3 separate regions of the Homo sapiens genome follow, and regions 2 and 3 are each linked to region 1. The links come from fine-mapping of genetic effects on gene expression. A gene starts in region 1. Each other region holds a variant in brackets. All regions are shown on one strand. Distances are from middle to middle.

What was found. PIP is the estimated chance that this variant, and not a neighbour inherited with it, causes the effect.
Region 2: its variant is fine-mapped to the expression of CLDND1 in whole blood (TOPMed, PIP above 0.99).
Region 3: its variant is fine-mapped to the expression of CLDND1 in whole blood (INTERVAL, PIP above 0.99).

The regions. Positions count from the first base shown.
Region 1 is chr3:98,519,107-98,527,293 of GRCh38, reverse strand. It overlaps CLDND1 (claudin domain containing 1), which reads left to right and starts at 4,392. Exons shown (of 5, transcript NM_001040181.2): 1 at 4,392-4,445; 2 at 5,852-6,161. The coding sequence starts at 5,870. It overlaps CLDND1-AS1 (CLDND1 antisense RNA 1), which reads right to left and starts at 4,724. Exons shown (of 2, transcript NR_198998.1): 1 at 4,461-4,724; 2 at 1,407-2,083. It also overlaps the pseudogene RPL38P4. RefSeq lists an enhancer at 2,814-2,943 and silencers at 4,146-4,785, 4,836-4,945.
Region 2 is chr3:98,560,334-98,568,520 of GRCh38, reverse strand. No RefSeq gene overlaps it. Among named protein-coding and RNA genes, the nearest start is that of CPOX, 29 kb to the left of the region's middle. RefSeq lists a silencer at 5,086-5,145 and an enhancer at 6,200-6,249. The variant C/T (reference allele first, on the strand shown) is at 3,718.
Region 3 is chr3:98,543,832-98,552,018 of GRCh38, reverse strand. No RefSeq gene overlaps it. Among named protein-coding and RNA genes, the nearest start is that of GPR15, 16 kb to the right of the region's middle. RefSeq lists a silencer at 5,796-5,845. The variant A/G (reference allele first, on the strand shown) is at 3,188.

The sequences.
Region 1 (8,187 bases):
ATGCTTATGTTTTCACTTGGCACATCTTGTTGAATCAGAAGCAACTTGCAAACCAATAAATGTGAAAAATATCATTATCATGGCCTCATAATAAGTATGACGGATAGTGATGAGAAGAGGACTCTCTCAATGAAGACTCTTAAGTTTATTAATAATTAAATTAATTGATTATATTAGTTTCTTATCTGCAATAAGATTTTTTTTTGAAAAGTTATTTTTGGGAGGCCCACAATTCATACTCATAACTCTATACTAATAAGTGTCAATTAGAAGAAATCAGAAAAGTTTCCTTCCATAATTTTACCTTCATAATTACTGTTAATCTTTGAAATAGCAAGGGCTGTTTTTCGGTACCTTTTCTAATCAGAATGCATATAGTCTTCCTCCTTTTCCTTTGCAATCTACATTTGCCACTATCTCTGCTTCTAGTACATTGCCTAGGCTTGAGGTATAGGGTATATAAATTCTGCAATGAAACTCTAATGCTGTGGATCTATGAAAAACCGTATTTTGTAGTTGCATTATTCTTCTTCCAGTAGAATTATAAACTGTAAAATTTTAGAGCTTCAAGTGGTGTTAATGATCATTAGTACAACTGTTTTACTAAAGAGGACCCTAGGGTCCAGAAAGGGGTCATTAACCAAAGATCCATTGATAATTTTTAAATAAAGGATAATTTAAACTTAAACTTCTCATTTACATATGGGTCATTCACTGTCTTTCAGAAGCATGGGCATCTAAAAATTATAGTTTTTTACTATATGTGGCACTTTACAGGAATTACTAAAAAAAAAAAGGAGACATTTTAGGTGCACTTTTCTATTTGCCTTGATCTTGATTCTGTTATTGTTCTACAGTGAATGGGTGCAAGGAAATTCAAAGATAGGTACATTTTTAAAAATGGTTTTTGGTTGGAACCCAGAATTGTACATATTCCCATTTTTTTCCTTTCTGAACTCCAAAGTTCACAAGGGAAACAACCAGAAAAAAAATTACATGAAGAAACATAATGTAAATATATCTTATAATGTAGATATAACTTTTAGTTCCTAAAAATGTGCAATTAAAAATAAAATATTAAATGTATTGGGGAATTTAGTATTGATGGAAATTCTAGTGTGAAGGGTTGTTTCATAAGTACATAATAAAAACAAGTTACAACATCTGAGTATCTAGATTTTCAGTTATCGGTTTTATTTTAAATGTGCTATAACTATAATGCCTTCCGGTTGAAACTAGAACCATCTTTAACAAGTTAAGCTAGATGTCTCATTTAACTTCGCTTTTAAACCTAAATTCCATAATCTCTACATGGTTGCACAAAATCATCTTTCATATTTGTGAAAATATAAGGCTAGCTACCGTTTCTCAAACAGCAGAGTAAGAAGCAGAAGTAGAAATTTAGCTCCATTAATTAATTAAGGATTTATTTTACCTACTCATACAACAAGCAAGCATAAATAGAAATTAGGAAACACCAAAGATGCAGAGATAAACCAGAAATACGGTTGTGTGGTTGGTGAAACTGGGTGTGAAGAGGCCGTTCAGGTCCTCTCTCAGGATGATCAAAACCACAAACACGTAGAGACACCTCCAGGTTCACACTAGGTTGGTCAGTGAAATGCGTCCTGAGTGTTTTCTAGGCATTCTGAAGACTTGAAGGGTGCAAGTGTCATCCTCCTTTGCAGGTCTTCCCAGAAACATCCACCTCCTGAGTCATGGCGACTTGTGTATGATACGATCCCAGGCCTGGGAATCTCCTGAGAAGGGTTAAACAGGGATGCCCAAAATACTAGCCCTGGCAAATTTTTCCTAGTCATTTGGTGGTTAGTCCAGAGCTTCTCAAACCTGCTGAAGCGAGCAGGAACACCTCTCTGTATAAATGGCTTATCTCCATTTAGGGGTAGCCTCTAGGGTTAATCCAGGAGCTTTAAAAGCTGTCTGTCTTTTTCTGTCCTGTTTTTCCCGGTCGCCGCACGCTGTCCCGGTCCGCGCCTGCTCCCTGCGTGCCTTGTCGCCATGCCTCCGAAAATTGAGGAAATCAAGGACTTTCTGTTCACAGCCCAATGAAAGGATGCTGAATCTGTCAAGATCAAGAAAAATAAGGACAATGTGAAGTTTAAAGTTCGATGCAGCAGATATCTTTATACCCTGGTCATCAGTGAAAAAGAGAAGGCAGAAAAACTGAAGCCAGTCCCTGCCTCCTAGTTTGGTAGTGAAGGAGTTGAAATGAACCAGCCACACTGATTTGAACTGTATTAGAATACAAAAAAAAAAAAAAAAAAAGACTGTTCTCACTAAGCTTACTCAAATATTATATTCAACAAATATTTGCAAATACTAATAACTTAATGATTCTTTCCTAAACCTCAGGTCCTGTGCTGGGCGTTTTATATGTTTTTCTCAATCTTCACAATGATCATGTGGGATAGATGCTACTGTCAACATCCATATTTTGGAGAAAAGACAACCGAGACTTAAAGAAGGTTAATTCTCCAAAGTCACAAAATGAGTATATTCAAGTGTGTTACCATGGTAGTCAGTTACTCTAATATCCAAGTTTGCTACCAAGTCAGTTACTCTCTCTAGTTCCTTTATCTGTAGACTGAAGTTGTTTCTTCTCTCTCCTTTAAACTTCTCTTTTGCCTGGTTTACTGACCACATGATCTCAGTGGAGAGGTAAATCTGAAAGTGGGGAATTTCTTTTTTTGAGGCAGAGTCTTGTTCTGTCGCCCAGGCTGGAGTGCAGTGGCGTGATCTTGGCTCACTGCAAGCTCCGCCTCCCGGGTTCATGCCATTCTCCTGCCTCAGCCTCCCAAGTAGCTGGGACCACAAGCGCCTACCAACACGCCTGGCTAATTTTTTTGTATTTTTAGTAGAGACGGGGTTTCACCGTGTTAGCCAGGATGGTCTCGATCTCCCGACCTCGTGATCTGCCGCCTCGGCCTCCCAAAGTGCTGGGATTACAGGCGTGAGCCACCATGCCCGGCGGAAAATAGGGGATTTCTAATGAAGGCCAATGGATGAAGACATTTCCTGGAGTATAAGGGCATTTATGTGTCTTACTACACATTGACAATTTGCCTGTGCCTCTCCATCACTTTCTCTAGTTGGTGCCTCTGACAAATTTTTTTTTGATTATATGCTGTATATGAAAATCCAGAGTCATGTTTGAATATATTTGGCTACTACCTTATTATGTGCTGCATATGAATATCAGTTTCACCCACTCAGGTCAAAGAAATGTAAGTACAGATAGAGAAACATATCATGCCTTTAATCTGTCAAAGTGGTAGAAATTTAATATCAACTTGCAGCTCCCATCTTTCTCCTATGCTAAATTACAAGGCATTAGGGGACAGAGTGGGGGTTTGAGAGCCCCTCTGGTCCTTGAGTCAGCTTTCTCTGTCGGTTACTGTTGAGAAATCCACCATTTGCTGGTCCCAGGCCACGTTAATAGTTCCACTCATGTTATTGTTAAGATGTCCCTGCTTCCTGTCCATGAATTTCTGTGTTAAACCTGAGGGTTCAGAATCATTGTTGCCCCTGTGCCACACATCATCTGCAATCTCCAATGCTGTCCATGACCTTATCTGCTTGAGTGATGTTCCCCAAATTTCAGTCTTTTTCCTACTATACCCACAATTTTTTATTCATTTTTTGACATATCTGGTATCCTCAGTATTATTAACTTAATAGTTTTTAAAATAAGTGAAAAGAATTTAAAAGGAACAACATTGCTGCAATAGAAAACTAGTATCACTTGTCATAAAAAGAAGGCAGCTACAAACACATTTTATGAAACCCAAATAATATCATTACATTCTTGATGGATACTGTCTGCCAGGTCACATACTTCTTAGCCTAAACTTATGCAATAAAACCAGAAGGATGCTCTGCTCCAATGGGAGGGATTCTGGGAGAGGGAAATAAAATGGGTCAACGTTTCACAAGTAGAATCCCATTTTTGTTCATTTATACTTAGATCTAGAGGCAGGGTGGTGTGATAGGGAAAGCACAGGCCTAAAAGTCAGATCTAAGTTATACAAGTCACGGTCATTGACTCGAGATGACCGGAAACAGGCCCGCTTTACTTTCTGGACCATTCTCCCTTCCTCCCTAAAATGCAAGAATCCAACAGCCTAGACTTCCCTTCTGCGTACCGGCTTGCCCTGAGGAGCTGAACTACATCTCCCACAATGCGCCGCGCGCGGCGCCAGGAATGCCTATCGCCGCCTCAGACAGCTTTCAGTCTGTCCCTCCTACAACTCCCACAAGGCCCCTCGGCCCCGGGCCGCGGCCCGGCCCGGAGTGGGGGCGGGCGGAGGCGCGGGAGTTATGGAGGGGGCGGGCTCTGCAGGGAAGTGCGTCAGAGGAGGCGCGGGGAGAGTAGGGTGCTGTGGTCTGAGCTAGAGGGTGAAGCTGGCGGAGCAGGAGGATGGGCGGTGAGTGAGCGGGACCTGCGTCGCCGGGCAGGGGTCGCGTCGCGGTTCCATGTTCCCGGCGGTTTGAAGAGGGGCCCCCTTCCCGGGCGTGGTCGGGCTGGGCGGGTTCCGAGCGGCGGATTTGTCCCAGGGCCGAGCCCTCTAGGGCGGGGCCTGGTCGGGTACCGGGGGACCCTGGCCCGGGGCCGAGCACGGCTGCCCCGCCCCAGCCCTGGCCTTCTCCGGCCCCGCCGTGAGGCCCAGGAGGTGGCTGCTGCAGGCGTCCGGCTTGGACGAACCGCCGTTCCCAGTGCTGGGACCCTTTAAGGTCATTTGAGAGCACCAGGATGAAGGGGGGATTTTTAAAAAATCAAAATACAAATCCAACTTTTTGAGTTTTCGTTGTCATTGCTCTTATCTTTCCTGAGTCACTTCCCATTTTCCAAACTCAGCAACCCCAGTTTGCGAGTCTGTTTTCATGAACCTTTGTAAGGTGTTTGGTGCGGTCACGGTGTATACTTGCCGTGTAGTATTTGACTCAGCGCGATCTGCCTTGAGTCATTTTACCGCGGCCATTTACTACTGCCGTTGAGCCCTGTCCACGCCTTGGGAGTGTTGATATGTTGAGAGTTTTCTGTCTGGCTGAGGAGGGATCATTTAGTTTTTGCGGACGTATGTTGCACTGAGGATTTAGGGAGAGAGCAAGATTTCTGTTGAGGAGGTTCAGAAGTATAAGGAATCGGGAGAGTAGATAGGAGTGAAGCATTTGGCAGCGTAAAGAAGCTTGGCTTAGCTTTAATGGATTAGGGAGAGATTGCTATCTAGCATTATTACATGTTATTGTTCTCTTTGCTATTTTATACACCTAGAACAACCTTTCCCTCGGGGTTAACAAACATCTTCAACTCTGTTTTCTGTATGGCTCCTGACTCTTACCTTTGTTTTAGGAGGCTTCCCTCTTCAGAGGAAACTGGGAGAAGCCAATTTCCACTGCTTCTTTTTCCTGTGCCTTTTTAACACTCAAACCCAGAACACTTAATCCTCTGCAGCTCGTGCAAAAATTCAGTCTGTAATTTAAAATGTGTGCACGGTACACTGCTGACCATGGGCATGTCTATTGTTTGTATCTGTAATGTGTATGTCCATTTCAGTGTTGTCTGTTTTAGTATGCAGGTGATAGACTAGAGAACAAGACCTCTGTCTCCGTAGCATCCTGGGTATGTGAGCATTCAATAAGTACTTTTATGAGAATGAGTTTTGTTTTAAGCTTAATTAAAAACATGCTTGCTTTCTAAAAAAAATTCTTAATGGTTATATGTACGAAGGGATGGGGAATTGGGTAAAGGGTGCATTTGGAATAATTCAAAATAATCTTTCTTATTTGTCCGTAAACTCTAACTTATCTTCTTTCTTCAACTTCTAAACAGAGCAGTCTGAATGCCAGAATGGATAACCGTTTTGCTACAGCATTTGTAATTGCTTGTGTGCTTAGCCTCATTTCCACCATCTACATGGCAGCCTCCATTGGCACAGACTTCTGGTATGAATATCGAAGTCCAGTTCAAGAAAATTCCAGTGATTTGAATAAAAGCATCTGGGATGAATTCATTAGTGATGAGGCAGATGAAAAGACTTATAATGATGCACTTTTTCGATACAATGGCACAGTGGGATTGTGGAGACGGTGTATCACCATACCCAAAAACATGCATTGGTATAGCCCACCAGAAAGGACAGGTATTTCTCTTATTTTAACTTCTGTCTTCTTCACCTGGTTAATAATAGACAAAACGACGTAATGATTGCCCAATTACATGTAAGCAGGTTTGTTGGTTCTCTCTCTCCTTAAAGAAATAAATCGTGTATCTTCTCTTTCTACTGCCTTCTCTCCCCAACTTCTTTGCATTACCATGGTACTCATCAATATTGGTTGGATGAGGAACTTTTCTTATCTTGGGAAAGCCTTAATGGCTTTTTTTTTTCTTATTTACTCACTCATTAAAATACTTTTCATTACTCTAACACATGTTATAAAGAAATAGTTGGAAAAGTACATCGAAAGACTTTTAAAAATATTTGGTAACTAGTAAAAGGACTACCATCGAAAATCAACTCAAAAAATTGTCCTTTTATGGGTTAGCTGTATTATAATACATATCTATCATTTGCCCCTGTGTCTTAGAGGATATAATTTGACCAGCTCTACATTTAATCTGTGTAATTATGAGACTGTTTTACAACAATCTTGATGCAGAGTTGGTAGGTTAAGAAATTTGTATTACAGAAGTTAAAAAAAAAAAACCAAAAACTAGATTTTTAGGTTTATTTTACAGGCATTCTTATTTAACACTTAAAGATTTTGATTTCCAGTTATTAAAATGGTAGCTTTAGAACTCTTTGTAAGGAACAACTTTACAGTTTATTTATGACTACTTCTGTTGGCCCCTTAGTGGGGAAGCATTGTATTCAAATCATAGCAGAACAGGCTTGAGTTATGATATATCAAAAGGATGATAATATGTCACTGTATCTGGAAAAAAAGATAATTTGGAAGGAAAGGAGAGAAAGTTGGTTAAAATTCATTGTAAAATGTTCAGTTTGACTTATGAGGTTACAGGAGCACTTGATATTGAAATTGGAGTTGGAATTGGAGTGTTACCATTTAGTCATTCATTAAACAAATAATTTATTGCATGTCTCCATGTTCCAGGGCCTCTTAGCTGGGAGAACATCAGGAAAGAACAAAATCCTTACTCCTGGGGAGCTAGCATTCTAATAAAGGATGACAGGCAGTGAACAGAATATAACAGTATAAACAGAATAAATAATTATTCAGTATGTTAAAAGATGACATGTGCTATGGCAAAATAGAACACAAAAGGGATTTGGAAATATGTGGGAAAAGGAATATTGGTGGCCATAGGTTATGATTTTCAATAGGATACTTAAAGTAGGTCTCATTGAGAAGACACCACTTGAGTAAAGAATGTAGTTAAAGACTAGACAAAAGAGTTGGCCATATGGGTAAATGGGGAGGAAGTCATTTAGGTTGGAAAGGACATCTACTGCAAAGGCTCTATGGCGGGAGCATGCCTGAAATATTCAAGGACCAGTAAGGAAGCCACTGGGCTGGAATGGAGGGAGAGACGGGAAGTTGGGTATGCTGTTAAAGACCTACTTTGGGAGTGGGACTGGGGCAAATCCTGGAGGACTCTAGGCAGAATGAGAACTTTGGTGTTGACTCCAGATACAGTGCTGAGCCCTGATCTGGTCACCCTGGCTGTTGTGAGAACAGAGGCAGCAGACAAAGGTGGAAACTAGAAGACTATGGTTAGGAGGTTATAGAAGTAATTCAGGTTAAGTGATGATTATGACTCACACCAGAATGGTAGCACTGAGCAGCAGCTGGATTCTGGACATAGTTTGAAGGAAGAATTCCTGGGATTTCCTGATGGAGTGTAAATGTACAAGAATTACTCTAAAGTTTCTGGTCTGAGGAACTGGAAGTGTGGATTTGGCATTCCCTGAGATGGGAATATGGTTGATAAAGCACGGTTGCATGAGAAGATCAACATTCCTATTTATTTCAGTCTTTGTTCCCTCCCCTTCTTCCTAGGCTTTCTACATAGCTATTCTGCCATTCATTTTACTGCTTCCACTTTATTTTTCTTCCTTGTGCCTATGTCTTCAGCCTGCCACTGAGAACCAGTGGCATCCATTGGACATCTATGAAACCTGTGTGTCAGTCAGGGCCAGAGAAGTT
Region 2 (8,187 bases), 41 kb before region 1:
CCAAATGTCTTTTCTGTCTATGTTAATAATAAGTAAAACTATTGTTTATAAAATGCAAACTAAGTCACAGATTTTGTACACCTCAAGGTACAGGGGAAGGTATTTTATAAAGTGGGTGCTGGACAATGGTCCAGATGTGTGACCTTTTTCAAGTTTTTGCTTGAGAGTTTAGAAGTTACATTTAAATCAATGATCACTGTGTCTAGGGTTATGTTTTCTAAACACAGCAGCCCTCTGGCTCAATCATGAAGATATCTCGTGAGTTCCAGAGGAACTTGGGTATATTTCTGTTTGTATAGAAAGACACTAAAAGAAAAGCATATTCTGGTTTTTACAGGTCTACCTTATTTTCTTCAAATTATATTTTAGTGACAACTTGAAGGAAATGCTATCAATGCTTCAAAACTCCAACACAGTTTTTTTGTGCTGCCACCACAGCATCATCTCTTCATGGTCTGATTGGTGTAAATACCACAGGGATAAGCAAAAGCATGAGACTGAAGACACTTTCTGTTTAGGAAAAATGGGTAACAAGTTGAAGAATGCTTCTCCCTGAAAAATCTTTGGGCTTCCTCTCAATGTTGTTCCTATTGTGTGGGTAGCTCCACCCCAGATACCCACACAAGAACTTGGCCAGGGTAAAAATCAAACCCTGTGTCTCAGGCCACAACAGAGTTTGATTTTACCCTGGCCCGGTTCTTGTGTGGGTAGCTGGGGTGGAGTCCTCTCATTCTTACTCTGCTTTTGTGGTGTGAAAGTCTAAGTTAACTGCTGATTGTTCTTCAACTTATTAGTGCTTTGCTATAATCTTAGGTAAAGTCAGAAATCCCATCAACTCATCTTATTGACATAGGGCAAAAGTACACCTGAATTTTTATTAGTTCAGAATTTTTTTAGAGTAAGAAGTCTTACTCTATAGTCTTTGTATATACGTACAAAGAGAACACAGCATTATGTTTTCATGACCTCGTACATCTTCATTCTTGAACCTTTTAATTTTCTCCCATCAGAAAATATTTTAATTATATAATGTTCAAAAAATTTAGGTGGGCATACTAACACAAAATCCATTTTCTCTGATTTGTAAACCTTTTTTTTTTAAATGAAGAGTTTTTGCTGCTTGCTTATATCTCTGTGGTTTGATGTTTTAGCCTCTTGATTAATCTCAATACTTTCTATCCTATGACTAAACTACTTTCCCTTGCATACACCCTTGGATTTCTACTGCACATCTTTTAAATTTTATGTCATTTATCATCTATATCTCTTCATCATTTTTTCTTAGATTTGTGTAATTCATGTCTCTTCTTTATTTGTAGAGAATCTAAATCTAGTCTTACATAATTGCTCCAGATGATAATAATCTATTTATTTATACTTCTAATTTGTCCCAGAAAGGACTTAAGGTGACATATATAATAATGCATAAAATATAGTGAGATGAATTCAATTGAAAATAAGAAAAGTTGACAAAGGGAAACTAATGGTGGGAAATTAAGATGAGGCCAAGAGCAAGGTCAGTGTTCAAATGCCTGCCTAATAGAGCCGCAGTTTGGCTTCCTGCTATATCCCTGTTTTTTGTTCACCAGCTTCATATCCCTCCCTATGTAGCTTGATGACCACAGCCTGCTTGTGATAGTTAGGGTTTTCCAGAGAAACAGAACCAATAGGATGCATGTGTGTATGTCTGTATATAGCTTTATTTAAGGAATTGGTGAATATAGAGACTGGCAAGTCCCAAATCTGCAGTTCATGCCTGCTGCCAGAATTCTCTCTTGCTCAGGAAGGTCAGTCTTTTGTTCTATTTAGAACATCCACTGACTGGATGAGGCCCACCCACTTTATAAAGGGCAAACTGCTTTCCTCAAAGTCCACTTATTTAAATGTTAGTCTCACCCAAAACACTCTTACAGAAACATCCAGAATAACGTTTGACCACATATCTGGGCACTATGGCCCCACCATGTTGACATAAAATTAATCACCATGCCACTAAAACCTGCAACTTGCCTTTAACCTCCACCTTGTCTTTCTTTTCCTTCCTACATGCACCCTTTCCATTTTCTCTAATTCCTGAAGCTTCAGTTATACTTCACTTTACTCCTTTTTTCTCACGCCTTCCGCTAAAGACACAGGATTCCCAAGGGGTCGTTAGGCCACGGGTTCCTATTTCCTGGGTTGGGTGAAATTCTTCTCCCTTCTGGTTGTTAACTACCGCTTTCAAATAAGTTCCTGGTCCATCTTGAGTGTCCCGCTTACATCTCCCCTAATGGCCCTTCCCCACCCTCTCCCTGTGCCCTACCCCTGGCTCTTTGTAAAAACTCCTTACATTGTTACAGGCCCATCGTGAACCATTTCTGCTAAAGGACTTTACGGTAGGAATTACCTTTGCTACATTAGGCCACGTTTTCTGGGTGCTGATGCAGCTGTATACAGGGTTACGTGAGTGCTTGTTTGAGTGTGTGTTATTGTCGTGAGAGTGGAGCAATAAAGACAGTCCCTGGGAAAAGTTTCCCAGGACCCAGTGGTCCAGTGTGTCTCTGCTACTAGAGGAAGAATGTGGTCCGCCACTCTACTTCTTGTTCCCTGAAGCCCAGACCACAGAGAGGGGTTGTGGGAATCAGTCTCTGCCTGGCAGGTTTTTGAAGCTTGTGAGGGGAAATAACTCTCTAGCTTTCTTTCAGATAGAAGAAAAAAAAAAAAAACAAAAATGAAATAAAAGTAAGACAAGTGGCTGTAACACAAAAAAACTTTATAGACAGAGATTCAAATATAAATCTGAATTGTTCACCCTTTTACTTTATAACCAGGCACCAGAGGACCCGTGAATGCATAATGATCATTTCTGAAATCTTTGGTAGTATTCCCATACAACCTGAGCCCATATTTCAGACCGGTCATAGCTGTGTGATTTAGGGGACGTCACACAGACTCTACTCTTAACTCCTCTGTAAAAGAGAATGAGTAATGTGTACCTCCAAAAATTACTGTGGGAAGTCAATAAAATAACATATGGGAAAGAGTTTTACAAGCTTTTAAGTGTTATGTGGACATTAGGTATTCAGGAAATCAGTTAAAGCCGCACTGAAGACATTAAAACAAACAATCAGATATTTGATACATAGAAAGCTGGGCAAATGACTGTTCAGCACTTTAAAGGTAGGAAGAAGAGGAGACTAGATCAGTCAGAGAGAAAGAGTTTAGTCATTTTCATATCATGATTCTTCCCTTCCCAGTGGAAAGTATATATGAGCATGTATGTTTATGTAATATAGATAGATGTGGCAGTAAATTGCCTTTCACTTTCTCTAGTCAAAATCAAAAATAATAATTTTTAAGCTAGGAAAATTCAGTAATTTGATGAGGGAATTTGGCTGGAAAAGTGAAAAACAATTCAAGGATAGGTATTTATAAATATATCAGAATATTATACATGTATTTTTGTATGCACATGTGTTTTATTTAGGAAGGAAATAACATGTTAACTTTTGCGTATCTTAATTTTTTATTCAGCATTGACTTCCCACCTGTTGTTTAACTTTTTCATTCTTTGTTTTTTTTTTTTTTTTTCCGTTGTGGTCAAGTGCGTATCGAAGACCACCTTAGCTTAGCTGAGAACGTTGTACTTGTGAAGCATTTGAATGTGGGCCACATCAAAGGTGAACAAAATAATTCATTTCCTGGCCCTGCTCAAGTATCCTCACCCTGAGAGTCTGC[C/T]CCTGTGGGCCACAACACTGCCACCCATAACAGTCACACCTCTCTTTAAACCCAGGTATATTTGGTATCTGTAACTCTCACCTGACTCTCACATAACAGTCAAATTATTTATCTCTTTGTAAACTTAAATTTACATTTATATGCTCCATCTCTCTTCACACCAGCTAGTGCTAATACCCAACACTGAGGGTGCCAGACAGTGTTCTAACATTACTTAAGTTAACTTAGTCAATATCTGAAATAACCCCGAGGAAGTTATTCTCATTGCATGCCTGAGAAAATTGAGGTGTGGAGGGTTGAAGTTTTTGCTCACCCCCACAGAGCCAAGTGCTGAGCAAAAGGTAGTCTGGGCTGGGTGCCGTGGCTCACACCTGCAATCCCAACACTTTGGGAGGCCAAGGCAGGCAGATCACTTGCGACCAGGAGTTTGAGACCAGCCTGGCCAACATGGTGAAACCCTGTTTAGTCTCTGCTAAAAATACAAAAGTTAGCCAGGTGTGGTGGCATGTGCCTGTAATCCCAGCTACTTGGGAGGCTGAGGCACGAGAATCACTTGAGCCTGGGAGGTGGAGGTTGCAGTGAGCTGAGATCACACAACTGCACTCCAGCCCGGGCGACAGAGAGGGACCCTGCCACAAAAAAAAAAAAAAAAAAAAAAAAAAAATAGTCTGGCCTCTGACATCACTCTCACCCAGAATTATGAAAGCTCAATAGGAATCAATACCTTGTCTCACAGTTTAGGTGCCTCCAGCCCCTAACCATTATTTGCATTCAAGAAAGGAACTGTAAATGTCTTATGGTTGTTACTCTTTGAAAACAAATCCTATAGTTATGGAAACAAACAAATAAAAAATGCTAGAGAACTTGTATTCTCCTAATACCATCTTTGATTAAGCTTTTACTGAGTTCAGAATTAAGGAATGTTAATGATACGAAAGCTTTTATAGCACTGATTTTTTTCAAAGTACCAACCTGTGGTTTGGTGACACAACTATAGAAACATGGATAGAAACTCCCTATTATGCAACAAACCACTTCCTGCATCTGTTTATTCATTTATTTGCAGTGTTTTAGCTAAACTCTTATCCACTTGTAGGGTCATATACTTGCAACTGTATCACTATATGTAGCATAAATATCACAAACTGCTGAAGAACATGGACTTGGTAGCTAGATTTTGAGGTTAGAATTCAATGTAATTCTGTATAAATAATACATACCTCAATAGGACAGTAGAAAAGATGACCTATGTTAACAAATGTAAAGCAATTAAAACAGTGCCAAGCACATAGTAAGTGCTTTATACATGTTTACTATTACTATTAAAACTCCAAAATTTCAGGAAATATACTTAGTTCAGCCTTCTGTAATCAGAAGTTTTGACTCAATTTAACCTGAGAGATAACAAAGTGAATGCCAGGCACGGTGGCTCACACCTGTAATCCCAGCACTTTGGGAGGCCGAGGCAGATGGATCATCTGAGGTCAGGAGTTTGAGACCAGGCTGGCCAACATGGTGAAACCCCATCTCTGCTAAAAATACAAAAATTAGCTGCGCTTGGTGGCACATGCCTGTCCCAGCTACTCAGGAGGCTGAGGCAAGAGAATCACTTGAACCTGGGAGGCAGAAGTTGCAGTGAGCAAAGATTGTGCCACTGCACTCCAGCCTGGGCGACAGAGCGAGACTCCACCTCAAGAAAAAAAAAAAGAAAGAAAGAAAAGAAGGAGGGAAAGAAAGAAAGAAAAAGAAGGAAAGAAAGAAAGAAAAGTGAAGCCTCTTTTCAGAGAACATCAGATCTTAGTTTTGGAAGGAAATCCAATTGTATGCTGCTCACACTTCTAATATACCTAAGAGGTAATAATAGTGATTCTGCTTGAACATTTCCAGTGATGGAGAACTTAACTACCCCTCAGAAAATTTCATTTTATAATTGGATAATTTAGTTATGAATAAACTTATATTTTATATTGAACAGAAATCTACCTTTCCGTAAATTCCACCTACTGGTTCCAGTGGTTAAATAGCAAAGCAGTGGTTTTTAAATTGTCTTGTGCAGAAATGTTTCAGAAGTTCTTAAAATGTTTGATCAAAATTTCATTTTTTTAAAAAGACATTTTTGAATCATTTGTTAAAACTGAAAAATTTAAAGGATGTGTAATATCCTTGGGAAGATTGCCTAACTTCTCCAATTCTCATCTTTTTCATCTACAAAATGAGTATAATTAGTAGATGAAAAATAAGTCTTCAATAAATGTTAACTGCATCTGTATAATTCTTATATTATTTGCATTTTGATACCAGCTATTAGAAGGCTTCCTTTAAAGCTCTGTGACTCAGAGGTCTTGTGGTTTCTCGCTGCAGACAATTCTCAGCTATCCTTTTCCTCAACTCAGTGGAGGATTTCTTTTGAGGGTTCAAACCCCCAACTTGGCCTTGTAATCAACTGAGCACAGGCTGACCTGGGTCTCCATCACTTCAAGGTAATCCACCAAGAGTGCTCACTCAACTCCCAGCCGCTACAGTTCCTGAAAATCTTCTAAGACAGGTGTTCAGATGCCCTGGCCTTGCTGTAATAGTAGTGGATGCTTTGGAAATCCACTGGAGCTGAGTTTTGCTAACACCAAGGTGCTGAGAGGTTTTCCACTGTGGTGTGATCCTGTGTAACTGCTGCCGACTGCATACCCTGCCATCCCTGCAGATTCTCAGCTTCCTGATTCTCTGATGGACCCTATGGCTTCAGAATAGGGAGAAATATGCCACAATAGAATTCTACTTTTGGGATAATTACCATCTTGTTAATCCAGCTTTGCAAAGGCTGAAGACTAGAGATTGGGTAGCTCTCAGTTCTCTATTCAGAAAACCAACGTATGTTTCTCCTGCCTACATACTCAGCTCCTCTGAGCAGGAGATAGTCAGGGAGAAGTCTGTCTGAGCTTGGCTCAAATGATATTCCCCTTTGGCTATGTGTCCTGTAGAGCTCTGTGGAGCATAATTTTGCTAGTTTTAAATATTATAAATGTAATACATTTTCATTGTAAGTTTTTTTTCAAACATTACTAGTATAAGTATACGGCATAAAATAAAAAGTTACATATCCCTACCACTATCTCACCCCCAGGTTTCACCACCCACTGATAGATCCTTATACATCTTTGAGGAAATTTCTCACTCTTATGCATATAACTATGCATAAATGTCTATTTTTATAAAAATATTGAAGGAGTCTTATAATAAATATATAAATATGTGCTTTATATACTTTAGTGTATTTTGGGCATTTTTCCATAGCAACACATTTAGGCTGCTTCCTTCTTTTTAATAAACACCTTATAATTTTATATTACATATTAAATATATATTAAAAGCTCTATAACATTTAATTAATATATTAAATGCTCTATAACATTTAATTAAGTTTAAAAATTTATTTACCCAGTACTTTATCAATGGATATTAAGATACTTTTCCTTTCTTTGTTTTTTTCATCCTTCCAAACTGTGGCAGGCAGTCTCAAAAGATGGCCCCCAATGAGCATTATCTCCTTGTGTATTCCCTTCCCTCATTGAATTAGTCTGTCCTGTGTAACAAGAAGACATTGTGCGAATGGCAACATATGACTTCCACGACTAGGTTATAAAAAGCATAGTGGCTTCTGCCTTGTACTTTCTTGAATTACTCATTCTGGGAGATGCCAGTTAACTTATCATGAAGATCCTCCAACAGTTATATTGGGAGGCAAGGGGTGAGGAGCTTGGCCCTCTTGCAACTTGTCAGCCCACAGGTCAAATTGGAATTGGATCTTCCAGCCCCAGTCAGACTTTGAGATGACTGCAGTCTCTGTCAACACATTGACTACAACCCCATGAAACAGCCACTCAACTAAATTGCTCTCCAATAACTGAGACACAGAAACTCTATGAGATAATGATGTCTATTATGACTTTAAACTTTAAAGTTTTGGGGTAATTTTTAAGCACAGGAGTAGATAACTAATAGACAAACAATGTCACAATGATCATCCACGTCTACTTATTTTTGTGAGAATATAAAAAGTCTGTAAAACAAATTCTTAGGAATAGAATTGAAAATAGTTGAAAAGAGTGTGAATTTTAAATTTCACTTAATAATATGCAATTTAATTTAACAGTGTCCCACAGTGAATGAGTGGGCTTCTCCATACCTACCCTCAACATTGAAGCTCACACTATAATTTTGCCATTTTATAACTTTTAAAAAAGTTTTTTTTTTTCCAACTTGGACTTAGTTATGCAGGAGGTTGAGCATTTATAAAATATTCATTGACAATTTATATTTATATTTCTGTTAACTGCCAATTTATATCTTAACTCGCTTTATATTGAATTGATCTTTTTGCTATTAGAGCTTTTTGTATAATAAGAAAATTAGCCCTTTTTTATAAGTATGCATGTTTTTCCCCATTTTGAAATTTTTATTGTAACATAGTTTATA
Region 3 (8,187 bases), 25 kb before region 1:
TAGCCGGATGAGGAAGCCTCTCACCTAAACTTCATAGTTAGAGGTTATTATAGGTCCCAGATCCCATGAAAGCCATACTCCTGTTTTACCCAGTCTAATCTTTCTATTCAGGGACCTTGGACTTGACACGTGGCACTACTTAGATAAGAAGCCTGAGGAGCAAAGGCCTCTGTGGAGGAGTTTTGTAGAATGAGATGGGAGATTAGAAGAATACAATAAAGGGAAATGTTTTTAACTCCTGCAGGAATTTTTTCAAGGTATGGTTTGAGGACTGTGGTTTCACCAGGAATCTTACAATAATCCAGTCCCCTAAAATTCCTGCCATTATTTTGTTATAGGGAGGATATTTTCGGCAAATAGGAGTAGAGGTCATGCATGAGACAGCCAGTCTAGGAAGGCAGTTCAGCTCTCCTTCAGGTTTGCTTTAGTCATGCTATATTAAAAGTTGTGAGAATTTTCCCAGAAAAGAAAGCTATATAACAGAATGTTAAAATTGAAATTTCAACAAGGCATAAAGATAAAATAAATGCAAAAATCTCAAGTAAGTTGTTGCTAAGTCACTATATGCAGATGGTACAAGCATAATATCTGGGAATGGATTCCAAACTCTTGGATCCCGTCAGAGAATAAAGAGAGGGTTTTTGTGAGCTTTCCTTAAAAGTGACTAGTAGCTGTGCTATGGGGCCTCAGCTTTTTCCACTTGGGAAAGTTACTGTCTCCTACACCAAGCCCAGCAAGCTGGGAGGGGCTTCCGTGGGACTACTCTTAAAGAGCTTAAGTGTGTTTGCAGTATGCCAGAGCACTCTAGACAAGTTGATTCTCTCCTGAAAAGTCTAAATACAAAAGTTGGTTCATTAGGACTTTGATGGTCAGGCCAGGAATTCGCTGTTGCGTGGGGACAAAGATGCTTTGGCAATGTTGCATGGGGGCAAAGATGATCAGGCCAGGAATCCACTTTGCATGGGGGCAAAGATGCTTCATTGTTGCCTGTGAACCAAGGGTTGGTGATGGGGGGTAGTAACTGGTGTATAGTCCCTCTGCTGGTGGACCAGAGGCTAAAGAGGGGTGGGCATCCTGGGGAATGAGGAGTATCACTTAAGTCTTGAGAGTTGATGTTGGAGATGTCTCCTATGATGGGATGTTCAAAGAACCCATAAAATTGGCTCAACTGCATAACCTTCGCTATCTGCCATGCCCAAAGAACAGGAAGTTGCTCAACAAACCAAATCCCCCTACCTTTCCTCTCTGCCTCACCTAAGGTTATCAGAAAGAATATAAGGCTCAGTTAGATTTGAATTTCAGATGGACAAATAATCTTTGGGACATACTTATACTAAAAAATCATTTACTATTCATTTAAATTCAAATTTAACTAGGCATCTTGTATTTCTATTGACTAAATCTGGTAACCTTACCCCCACTCCACCTTTCTTTGAGCAGCTGGTGAGTAGGTGAATAGTGAGAGGAAGGAAAGAACGAAATTGACACTGTGTTTTATGCTTCAAAGCTCTTCCCAAAGAGTAAGAAGAAAAGTCAATGGACCTGCCAAATTCTTCAGGCAAGGGCAGAAGAAGAGTGCCCTAATGAATAAATTTTAAAAGGTTAGAATGGGAATAATAAATAAAAATTATGTTTTGCGTATACCACAAATCTTTGTTAAATAATCCAGGTCTGTCTGTCTAACTCTGTTTATTGAGCTGTTCCTCTTCAGGACCATAATTATTAATTTCTCTTGGAATTAGTACTTTTCAGAACATATTTAGGGAAATTTTACCTTATCATATAACTAAAGGATTGTATTAGAGAATCTTGGCAAAGCTTTGGTGGGGAACTAGTTTATAAGGTAAGTCCTTTAGGATTTCAGGTAAAAGAAAATTCAACTCAAACAGGCTTAAATAACAAAAGAAGTGTACAGGTTCAGTTACTTGGAAGGCTCAGGTGTAGGCTGGTTAATCTAGAAGCTCAGTCATGCCAACAAGGACTCCATTTTTATGTTTTGTTTTGTTTCATTTTGCTTAGTTTTGACTTTGTCTTTTCTTTTTACAGTCAACCATGTAAACTTTATTCTAAGTCTGGCTCTCTTGTTTCATAGGGTGGCTTCAATAGGGCACAGAGAAAGAGAGAGCAATGCTGTCTTGGCATTCCAAACAGCCTGGTTGGTTGGTCACATGCCCACCTTATAGTGAAGTCTATCAAGGCTTTGCCAGGAGGCTAAGAGTGGGTTCAACTTTTACAAAAACACAAGAGCTGCATGAGAAAGACCAGATAGATGACTGCCTAGGCATAAGAGTCCTGAATTATTTTGAGAAAAATGAAAGCATGAGAATGGATGCTGGGTCAACTGTCAAGTTTCCACCACCGTTGATTATTTAAATTTCTGCCATTGACTGCATGCAGGGGAGATACCAAAAACTATTTATCTGTCTGCATGTTTATGCAATCAACCAATCTGAAAGGACCTGGCTTTCAGTGGAGAAGCCTGGCTCCCAAGGGTCTCTTGTTTGCAAGGTGTTAACTCCTTAGTTGCTATATTGAAGTGTCCAAAAGCTACTAGGGAAGGTGACAGAAGACCATGATAGAGTGGGGCACTCAGAGGACACAGGGCAGTGGCAATTTACCAACTGAAGCAGAAATATATCAATATATTTTAACAACCTTTATACTTGTACCCATGTGTGCCAGCTGAATTTTTTTTTAAAACCACAATGTGATTTTGCTTCTGAATAGACTCTCCATTTCTCTTAGTTTTCTCATTTTAAAAATGAGTGGATTGGATTAGATGATTTTAAGAATTCCTCTGAAAACAATGTTTGTGTTGTAGTCTATAACAATTTATATAAATGACCCTTTAATTCTATCATGTACATTGTGATATGTTTCAAATAGAATATCGTAAGCAGTTGTTACACATTTTAAAATGCAGAGAACCAAATTTCCATTTGAAATTTGGCACGTTAAATTTAACTGAATTTAAATTTAACTGGATCTGCATGCTGAAATTTTCAAATAGATTGTTTTTAAGACCATGAGGGATTTCTTGTTGTTTCTCATTTTCTGTGTTTTGCTTGTAAAATGTGAGAAAAAGACAACCAACTTAACACCTTAAAAACCACTAATGTTGTTTTGACCTTAACGAGAACTCAGGAGGCACAAAAACAGAATTGGCTAAAGGAAAATTAGAGTTAAG[A/G]TGGAAGCCATTCATTCGCCTAAGGATGGTTCAGTGGCTGAAGTCATTCATTTCCGGCAGCTGCCGTTGGCCAGGTTACCCAAGGATGGAGAGAGAGGAAGGGAGTAGTAGACACAGGTCATTCCCACTTCCCCACCCCGACAGGTTCAAATGCCCTCACAGGTATGGGTTTTTCTCCAGGGTTTCACCTGCTACTATAACACTTCCTGAGAAGTCTACCCAATCTCTTAGGTTTTTACCTGGCTTGTCATCTTAGATACAAAAACCTCAGAGGACAAATTTTTTTACTAAAATAAATGGGAAATCAGCGACAATGATGATGCTGTTTCCTCCCTCCCTCCCCTTTCTTTGTCCTCCTTTACCCATCTCGCCCAAATCAGTTGATCGTCCCAGAGGGCAGGGTTGCAGGCACTAAAATTATAGGCAAGAGGAAAGAGTAATATAGATTATCTTTTTCTGCAGAGACGTGAGTGTTTGTAGTATTCTGAATTTTTGGTCTGTCCGATGGAGCATTTCAAGCATTTGCAGATCTAGACTTGTGGATTTTTCTGAACAAGTTGCCAGAGCTATCAAAATTAAGAAAAGCTCTTGACCTTTGAAGAGAGAACTTCTTGTCTAAAGCTAGCATTTTCTCCTATCTTCAGAGCAAAACCGGTGGCTAAGTAGATCCCTAAGTCCCCCTCCTTCTCTTTATATATAATTTTTGATATAGTTGTATGTATATACACATCTACATTAATCAACTCAGATGAAAAACTTTACTAAGAGAAACTTCTAAGGGAAAAGAGCCACAGGTATAGGGATGAATGATCTTATCTTTCTAAATGTGTTTTCTCTTATAGCACTGGATATAGATAAAATGCGTTCATAATGCTTTTTACAAAAATAGTTCTGAAATATAATTTATAAAGTTTGTTGCCCAGAGGCTAAAATAAATTTATTAGTCACAGATGAGTGCTGTGGTTCTAATAGGTCTGCATATGTGGGTAAGTATATATCATGCCTAATGTATGTTATATAGAGTTTATATACATTCCTCCAACAACAGCTTGATAAACATTGTCTCCGCAATTAAATTAAATTATCTTTAAATCAAAATTCATTTTTGAATATTTATAGATCTGTCTCAGTGCATACAGGGCCAAAAAAGAATATAAAATAAAAACAAACATTACTTGTAAGACCGACATAAGTCGCCTCACTTACTGAGTTTTCAATAACCCCAAGTTAAATAATGTTATTTTCATTTTACAGATAAGAAAACTGAAGGAGAAAAATGTTAATAACTTGTCGAAGGTCTCACAGACTTTGCTAGTGGTAGGCTGTTATGGTTTCAAACTCAGTTTTTCTAATTTTAAAGCCTTTATGTTTTCCACTCTATCACACTATCATATTGTATATTTTTTTACTTTACCCTCCTTTTTTTTTCTTAGTAAGGGGAACTAGCTATGTTGCCCAGGCTGATCTTGAACTCCTAGCTCATGCAATCCTCCTGCTTTCAGCCTCCCTAGTAACTGGGACTACAGACACGCCACTGTACCCAGCTCATTATTATTATTATTATCGTTATCATTATTATTATCGAGATGGAGTTTCACTCTTGTCGCCCAGGCTGCAATGCAATGGTGTGATCTTGGCTCACTGCAACCTCTGCCTCCCGGTTTCAAGCGATTCTCCTGCCTCAGCCTCCCTAGTAGCTGTGATTACAGGTGCCAGCCACCACACCTGGCTCATTTTTGTATTTTTTTTTTTTTTTATTAGAGACGGGGTTTCGCCATGTTGGCCAGGCTGGTCTCAAACTCCTGACCTCAGGTGATCCGCCTGCCTCAGCCTCCCAAAGTGCTGGGATTACAGGTGTGAGCCACCGTGGCCGGCCCCAGCTCATTATTTTTAAGGCATTCCTCATTGTAATTTTCCAGGGAAATAGGAAAAAAAGTTTGGAAATAGTGGAAAACTCAATAACTTTAAACTAGTGTTTATTTAAAAAATAAACACTAGTAATAGTAATGATATTAGTCATATTTATAGTATTAAAAATTACTACCTATACAGCCTAAGAAGTCATTGAGGATTATTTTATAAAGCCAGTTAACCAAGAGACACATTAGGGGCACATTTTTACAATTCTCTACTTTGCTTAATATATGACTTTAGTAGCATGAAAATGTAGAAAACACTTATCATTCCGTTGTATAGTATGCTATGTCTTTGCCATACTTGAAAGCATTTCTCAAAAAGATGTTTGAACCTTCAGAAAATTTATATTCTCTCAGAAAAAAAAATTGTTCTATATATGTTAGCTCAGGTTTGCACAGAAGACCCCAAAATGGGATTAGGCAAGAATTGGGGAAGGGAGCTAGAAGACATGGGAGAACCCTCAGACTGAGGTCTGATTTGCATGGGGAGAAAAAAGGAAAGGGAGGAGAACTGGGTACCCAGATTGTTTTTCACAAGTTGTTTTGTGAATTCAATTGAGATAATATATGTGAATGATTTAACAGTTCCCGGGTGCTAAATAAATACTCCATAAACATAGGTTTTGTTTTTAATTTCAATTTTTAGAAATCATTGCAATGAGAATTGTAGATACTCGGTGCAAGTCATCTGCCCTGTGCATTTTTCTTGTAACAAAGCTGTACCGTTATAATGGAAAATTGATGTCAGACTAGTGGTTCTCCTTCCTTGACTGCTTAGTGAGCAATCTTCAGACATCCTTGAAGCTAGAAAACTTTCTAGGTAAACCCGAGGGAAAGCGAAAGCACTCAGAGTCAACATTTTCTTCTTATGTCTGCTTAAATACAAATTTTATTCTAGAAATATTTTACTTTAAAAATCTTTGTAGTTTTATAAAATATCATGCTCTTTGCAAATATTTTAGAATAGAACATTTGGAAAAAACAGTAAAACTCAAAGTATTATTCTGTCCAACCAATTCTAATTTACACTTAATTTAAAAGTTGAAATATTTTAAAATAAAATAGAAGTTGTGTCTACATAAACAAATTAAATTGACCTTTGATTTAACAGACAAGTCAATTTAGTAAAAGTAAAATTGAAGCTTTGAATCAAAACAATGATTTGCTGTTTGATATGAGAACAAATATTATTTGATTGAGCTTTAATTTACATCATTTTTTCAGAACTTAAATTATATCAAAGTCATGGATGTTAAACTTAAAATTGGACATGACATTTAAAAATTCTTATTTTGACTTTGAAGGAAAAGGCAAAACTTGTACATATTATTGTAATATAATAAATATACAAAATAAATATTATATTTATATTTTATATAATAGATAAATATATAATAAAATAATATTTGTTTTATGTGATGCATGACATTTATTTCAGCATCCTTTATTTTAACATTTTAAAAAAGTACATACTCATTATAGAACATGTAAAATATTCAGAAAAATATGAAGAAAAACAAATTAAGGATAAAAATAAATTTGCCCTTGGTTCTACTACCTAGAACAGCCATTGTTAACATTTTAATATATTTCCTAAATAAAGTAAGCTGGGATAATTACTCCTTAATGTTAAAAATAAATGTTAGGATTAATACTCTGGTATCATGTTCTTTTATTCAAAATTATGTTTAATTTTTCTCTTTGGTTGTGGGTCAATGATTATTAACTCATTATTTTACCTCATAACATCCTTAACTTCTCTTAAAAGTGATACACAGAAAATGTTGTTTCTTACTTAAAGAAACTTTAAATCAAGTTTCTATGTTTGGGGCAGTTTATAATATACTACATAGAGAAACCCTTATCTCTTAAAACTACAATTGGGAGTTGCTATTAAAACGAGGAAATTATTAACACAAATGTGCCTTCCAAAAGTGTAAATGAAGTTCCCGAAAGACAAGGGCATTGTCTACCAAATTTCTTCTGCACGTGGCCCAAGGCAACTCATTGTCTTAACAAGTAACATTTAATAAAGAAGATGGTAAAAGTTTAAATTCCTAATGTCAGTTTAGGTTCCATATGTCACAGGCACAAAATCTAGAGCGTGAGATTTGGGATTACATTTACTTTTCTTTCTTTGTCGCCATAGATATATAAGAAATCTGTGACCAGAAAAATTTTAAGGGATAGAGAAAATGAGATAATAGAATTTAGTACATATCTACCATTTTTTTGGTTTTAATTTTTTTGAGACGGGCTGTTGCTCTGCTGCCCAGGCTGGAGTGCAGTGACACAATCTTGGCTAACTGCAGCCTTCGCCTCCCAGGTTCAAGCCATATCTACTCTTTCTAAAAAACATTTTCTGGTGAAGGACACTGTCATAGGTGTCATAGCATTTGTGCTTTAGTGTGGACTTGGGTGTTACATTGAGCAAAATAGATAACTGTCCATTTCCTATGTGCAACATACTTTTGAATCAATTACAGGCTTCAAGTGGCCATCAGTAGGATAGAAAATGCCATTTGTGATAGATCACAATTAAGAGATTATATAACAGAAAAGAAAACATGTTACAGTTTTTAGAAAAAGTTATATTTTTAATAAAATGGACTTCCTCTTCCCTCAAGAAACATCTTTTTTTAGTATTAATTGTGAATAGGCAAAGGATTTGTTTATTTGAGATATTTGCTTTGGAAAAAATAAGAAAAATAATTTGAGTGAAAATTATTGCAATTAGGCAAAGGTAGTGGGGAGAGAGAGAAAGAGAAAATCTGGGAATCAGGAAAGAATACAGTGAAGTGGAAAGGCCATGAGCTTTGCGATTACGTAGGTCTGAGCTTAACTGAAATTGGGGTTTCATTTCTGGTTCATTACATTAATAATTATGTGAAACGATTCCTCTGAGGGCTATTTTCTTCATCTATAAAATGGGAATGTTTCCTCAACTATCATTTATTAAACTCTTAGTATGTACCAGGTAATTTTCTGAATTCCTTACATTTTCATCTTAATTAATTAGAGGTACTACTGTTTTCTAAAGCAAGTATAATTGTTCCTATTTTATAGAGAGAAATCAGGCTCAGG